Regions from separate parts of the Homo sapiens genome. Here region 2 is linked to region 1. Evidence: fine-mapped expression QTL. A gene starts in region 1. The other region holds a variant in brackets. All regions are shown on one strand. Distances are from middle to middle. Region 1 holds the start of HMGCLL1 (3-hydroxy-3-methylglutaryl-CoA lyase like 1). Region 2 overlaps HMGCLL1 (3-hydroxy-3-methylglutaryl-CoA lyase like 1).

What was found. PIP is the estimated chance that this variant, and not a neighbour inherited with it, causes the effect.
Region 2: its variant is fine-mapped to the expression of HMGCLL1 in prefrontal cortex (BrainSeq, PIP 0.95). The same link has a PIP of 0.9 or more in cerebellar hemisphere and cerebral cortex.

What each region holds. Positions count from the first base shown.
Region 1 is chr6:55,577,956-55,580,877 of GRCh38, reverse strand. It overlaps HMGCLL1 (3-hydroxy-3-methylglutaryl-CoA lyase like 1), which reads left to right and starts at 1,686. Exons shown (of 9, transcript NM_001042406.2): 1 at 1,686-1,930. The coding sequence starts at 1,823.
Region 2 is chr6:55,432,741-55,435,662 of GRCh38, reverse strand. It overlaps HMGCLL1 (3-hydroxy-3-methylglutaryl-CoA lyase like 1), which reads left to right. Exons shown (of 9, transcript NM_001042406.2): 9 at 1-1,290. The coding sequence ends at 1. Among named protein-coding and RNA genes, the nearest start is that of GFRAL, 110 kb to the right of the region's middle. The variant A/C (reference allele first, on the strand shown) is at 1,241.

The DNA of each region.
Region 1 (2,922 bases):
GGTACAGCTAATAGATTTAGCTCTATGAATGTACACCTATATGATAGTCATGCTTAGGTAAATAACAACCGGAGTTTTGGTGCTTTACAGAGTTTTAAGCGCATCCAGGAATTGGATAACTTCACTTTAGCAGTTCAGGGAATGTTCTCCAGGTTAAACATCCGGCTGGGCGCGGTGGCTGACCCCTGTAATCCCAGCACTTTGGGAGGCCGAGGAGGTCAGACCACGAGGTCAGGAGATCGAGACCATCCTGGCTAACGCGGTGAAACCCCGTCTCTACTAAAAATACAAAAAATTAGCCTGGCGTGGCGGCCGGCGCCTGTAGTCCCAGCAGCTGGGGAGGCCGAGGCAGGAGAATGGCGTGAACCTGGGGGGAGAAGCTTTCAGTGAGCCGACATCGCGCCACTGCACTCCAGCCTGGGCGACAGAGCGAGACTCCGTCTCAAAAAAAAAAAAAAAAAAAAAAAAAAAGAAAGAAAAAAGAAAAAAAAAATCCTTGGTTAACTGTGAGAAGAAGACTATGACCTCCTCATCCTCTTTGCCCTTTCTAGTGCAGTTTTACCGAAGGATCTACACGATTTCTCTTCCACTCTTTGTCTTTTTCCTCCCTTAACCCATTTATTTTTATTACCTGTGGAAGTCTCACTGCCCACCCCCCAAACCCCCACCCATGCAACACACAAGTGGTAAGGATGGTTTGACTTTGAATGGTAAATTTCTTCTGTGTGTTTATACTACGGTGTGCATCGGTTGGCTCCTGGTTTACATTTGCTCCATCAGCCACCAGGGCTGATGCGTATTCCTGGCCATGGACACCCTGGCTGGGTCTCCGGAAGACCCTAGGTATCCTGCACGAGACTATTCTTGATGACTATGTCATTTTAGCTGCAAACCACTGAACCCACTGCGAAGATTATTAGGGTGTGACAATACACGTAAGTTTACATGTGAAAGTGAGGGGGGGAAGGTAGGCCGGTGGTCTGCTCGAAGGCTATTTTTTCAAACCCTCTCTTCCACTAAAAATGTCTCCAATTCTAATATCCTAAGAACTTGTATAGAATTTTCCGTTTGGATAAATCTAGTCCTTAGGGCTTTAATAATTTTGTGCCATGAGACTTTTAAACACGCAGTTCCATTTCAGCGCTTAACCGCAGCACCAACTTACAGCTTACCTCTCATTTAGGAACGTACCTCTGAGAGTACCTCTGACATGTAACCTAATTTAAGACTATCTTTTCCTTTTCATTAGACTGTTGGATATGTTTTAACCTTGCTGATTGCCTCAAAAACATTTTTAAATAGAGCTTATTGTTATAAAGCATAAACTCCGTGAGCTCAACGGTAGGCAAATCTACACTTGAGCACCCAAGGCTGCAGCTGGGAATGAACGAACTCATCAACATAAACACTCACGCCCCTTCCTTTTATTTTAGACCCCTTTTCTTCTACACCTGATCTATGCCAGGTGAGAAGTAGGTGGGCACGTTAAGATACAGTCAGCCCTGGGCGCTCAGTGTAGTGCGGAAAATGAGACACCCCTGGACATCCTCTGGCTCAGCTCCTTTCTCTCCTGTTCAGGTGCTCGGCATTTCTGTCGATTCCCGCAGGTGCCCCGTGCACCCGCTGCCCCAGGCGCGGCCACCTGCCACGCCCCACTCCCCGCCCTCTCGGCGCCGCCGCAGTGCGCAGAACAGCTCTGGTCCTCACAGCCAGTGCACCGGAGGGGCGCGCTCCCGAGCTGGCGCAGTTTCCCAGCGCGGTGCCCGCCCCTCATCCTCCTCCAGTCTCCCTCCCCTCGCCGACTGCCGCCCCAGGCTCCGCCATGGGGAATGTGCCATCCGCGGTGAAGCACTGCCTCAGCTACCAGCAGCTTCTCCGGGAGCATCTCTGGATCGGGGATTCAGTGGCAGGGGCGCTCGACCCCGCGCAGGTACCACCTCGCGGCCCAGGGTGTCCCCACCCTCATGCGCACACTGACAGCCAGCCTCTCTCCCTGCAACCTCTTGGTGCCCTCCTCCCTTTATGTCACCTCCTCACCCCAGGACCCTTCCCGCAGCAGTTCTGTCGTGTTAGGCCGCACCCCTTAAACGGTTTCCCGTTATCTCTCTTCGGTGAATGTATCGACCCGCCTCTACAGATCAGACCCTGCAAAATCCCTGCCTGTGACCATTTGCTGGTCGCCTAAAGAAAAGAATTCCTTCTCTGTGTTTTCCTGGAAAGGGATGCATTACGTAATACAATTTGTATTCATAGGTATTCCTTCAAGGATACCGCCCTTATTCTCAGTGCTCCTTGTACTGTGTAACAAAGACTACAAATTTGTCACAATGTGAGGCAGAAAAAGGAATGAAACCGGTAGAAGGTTAAGAAGACATAGTAGGATGAAATAATCCATCAGAACATTAATTATCCCAAATGTATTTGTGCTTCAACAAACTTGAAAGAAAGTGTAAATAACAGCAATTTCAGACTAAAATTTATTCCCACATTGTTCCTGAAAGGGCATGTTAAGACAATAGGCAACTTAATATTATTCATATACTTATGATTTAATGCACTCTTAACCAGTGTCAGATAAATAAAGAAAAGGTGTATAAAGAAATTAACTTTTTCCTTAAAAAACTTGAAAATCTAAAATTCCACAAAATATTAAATAACTGATAATTGTTATGAAAATGTTGAAACATGGAATAAAGGAGGAGCACTGTGAGGACTTCTTGTTAAATTACAGGTGCTGGATACAAGATTATTTCTGATTCGACTAGTGAACAAAATAACTTCTGTTATTGTAATATTTTAGTCATTAAGCATAATTGTACCATGTGGATTTAAATCAACTATTCTAATATAAAATATTCATTTTCTATTGTGTATTCTCAGTTTAGTGTATCATATGTGAAATTGCAATCTTATCTTTACAAA
Region 2 (2,922 bases), 150 kb after region 1:
ACTTGAATGGATTTATGACGTACCGTTGAGAAGATCAATTTCAGCTACAATACTCATCTGAAAATCATTAATGCCAACTTGCTCTGATATGTGAAGTAATGGACAAGAGTGGGAAAAAAGAGATCCTTTTCAAAAAGATTATAACTGGATAGATTAAGTCAACAAAATGCAATATCAGTCATCAGGTAAATTGCAAGCTGAGGATAAATAATAAAACTTGTCATAATTTTGAACTTGGAAAAAAGTTTCTTTTGCTCTCATAGAAATAACTTTTTAATTTAGTAGATGGGAAAATTGACTTCGTATTTCCCCAAGTATCAAATACTGTGTTAATACTTAATCAAGCAGGCTTAACACTGTGTACATATTGTCAGTAGTTTATGAGCTCCTGCATAGTATGCAGAGTGTGTGGCCTCAATATTATACATTATGCCTCTGGATCTCAACTACTCATTTGCCAAGTCAGTTATGTTATGGACCAAAAGCCAAATCTCCATCTGACCCTACATAATTTTAGCAATAGAACTTTTATATTTCAAGTATGGCTAACATCTGTTAACTATTTCAGTGACTTTATCTGGTTCCAAGAGGCTGTGGCCAATGGCAAGATGCCATATCCTGGAAACATATTACGACCTCCCATGTTTGTTACATGCATCCAGTTTACCACACTTTACCTGTCATCAGTTATAGTAAAAACCAGCATGGTGTTACTCAACTATTGAGAAATTGTAAGCTATTTTTTTTTGTCCTGATGTCTAAATTGCAGTGATAAGAATAGGTTGATACATGTATCATAATCTACCTTTATAATTTTCAGATCACTTTCAAATTGCCCAAGGAAATATTGTGATCCTAAGAATATTAAGATAATTTTAGGTTAATGAAATACCCATTTTCCTTTTATTCATGGTGCTTTGCTTACCCACATTATTTTTTGGTGTATTTTTTAGTGGTTATTTTAGAAGTTGAAGTGGCTGAAATTTTGTCTATTGTCTTAGAATTGATTGCCAGAAATTGCAAGATGTAATATATCAAAGTCAGGGATGAGGAGCAGGAGGACTATTCAAGATAAACTTCTGTAACCTATGCATATTTTATGGGGGCAGTATTATTACAAATGGATCTGAAATGTCAGTTCTAGTATTTAGAGAGACTTCTCTAATAATACCGGGTGATATTATCTTTGAGTAAATTTGAATATAAATTGAAACATAAAAATGAGTATTGTGAACTTTCT[A/C]GGAAATATTCATTAAAACCATTGAAATAAAAATAAATTCAAGAAAGTAAGAAGTACTGATTATGTTGCATGGTTCTGGAGCAGGAATACTGAGAGCAATTCTCTGTTTTGGGCTTAATGTTTGTGGGTTGGGGGAAATGCAGGGAGCAGACAAAAATCAAAGCTGGTTATGAATCTTTTTCAGTTACATCTCCCTGTGCATCTCTCTTCACGAAGCACATGACCCTGCACACTGGCAGTAATGGGACACCTGCAATTAGCGTGTACAACTGGATACGTACCCCATATTCTGAGGAGACTGACTTCCTATCTCTTACAATGCTATGCTGTTCCTAATTTCAGATATTTGGAAAAGCATCTCTTGTTACAAACTGCCCATAGTAACAACTAAGGGGATGATGGGAAAGCATTGCTGTTTTGAAATGAAAACCATGGACTTTGAAAGACAGAGCAAGTAGTCAGAAACTCCAAGTACAGTCTACAGCACAGTTACATAGCATCCATATCAGTGTACTGAGTCACTTCCATGAATACCTTGATGCTACTGAATCACATTTAGTATGAGAAAGCTTGTTGTAGGTATTTGGTATCCTTTCTCCACACAAACCATCTAAATCCCTTTGATAGTTTAAGAGAGTTTCTTTTCTGGTTTTATTTTCTCCACCTTATTTATCTTTTGGCCTCTTCCTTCTTATGTTTGACTGCAGACTCACAAATGCACAGTTGCCTTCATTCTTGCAACTCAACATGTGGTCCAAGACCAGCAGGATAATCCCCTGGGACCTTTTGAGAAATAGAATCTGAGCCTTCACTCCATACCCATTGCATCACAGTTTGCATTTTAAACAAGATCCTTACGTGACTCATATGCAGATTAACTTTGAGAGGCACTTGCCTATTTGATACCTCCTCTTGGGTATCCAACAGGCATCTCGAGCTTCATATATATTCAAAATTCTTGTACCATTTTTCACTTTGTGCACTGTAGTCTACCCCACTGTCTTCTCTGTTTTTGGAACAAGGCACACTCAGATCCATCTCAGGTCCTTTACCTTAGTTTTTTTCTGTGTCTGTTTCCCTGGCTCTTTCCCTGGGCATGTTTGGCTCCCTCTTGTCATTGAGGTCTCAGCATAAATTTTACCTCCTTAATGAATCTTCCTGGACAACTCAGTTTAAAGTAAGTCCTGTTACATTCTCTCACATCAACTCATTTAATTATTAATTATAGAATTTTTACCTTCTTGTTTGTTTATTCTTTCTTTTTCCAACAGAATATATACACCTGAGAGCAAGGGGTTTGCTATCTTCTTCACTCTTAGTTCCGCAGTGCCCAGAACATAGTGCTAGGGTCTAGCACTAAATACCAATAAATGTTAGAGTGAAGAATAGAAACGGGTTTAATTCAGACATTTGGGAATTGAAGGAAGGAAACTATTCTGCATGAACTCTGTTTTCTGAATATATACATATATATTTCCTGAGCCCTTAATAGATTTTTAAGGTTTATTTGTTCCAGTTTATATGTTGAATGATTGAATTAAGGAATGAATGCCTGTATACACCAAAGAGGTTGTTAAGAAATGTTGGATAAACCAAAATTGTAAGGGAAATACATATCTTTTTAAGCAGAATAAAGTAAAAGTGAAACTGCTGGAATTGATAACAACAAATGGACAATATCA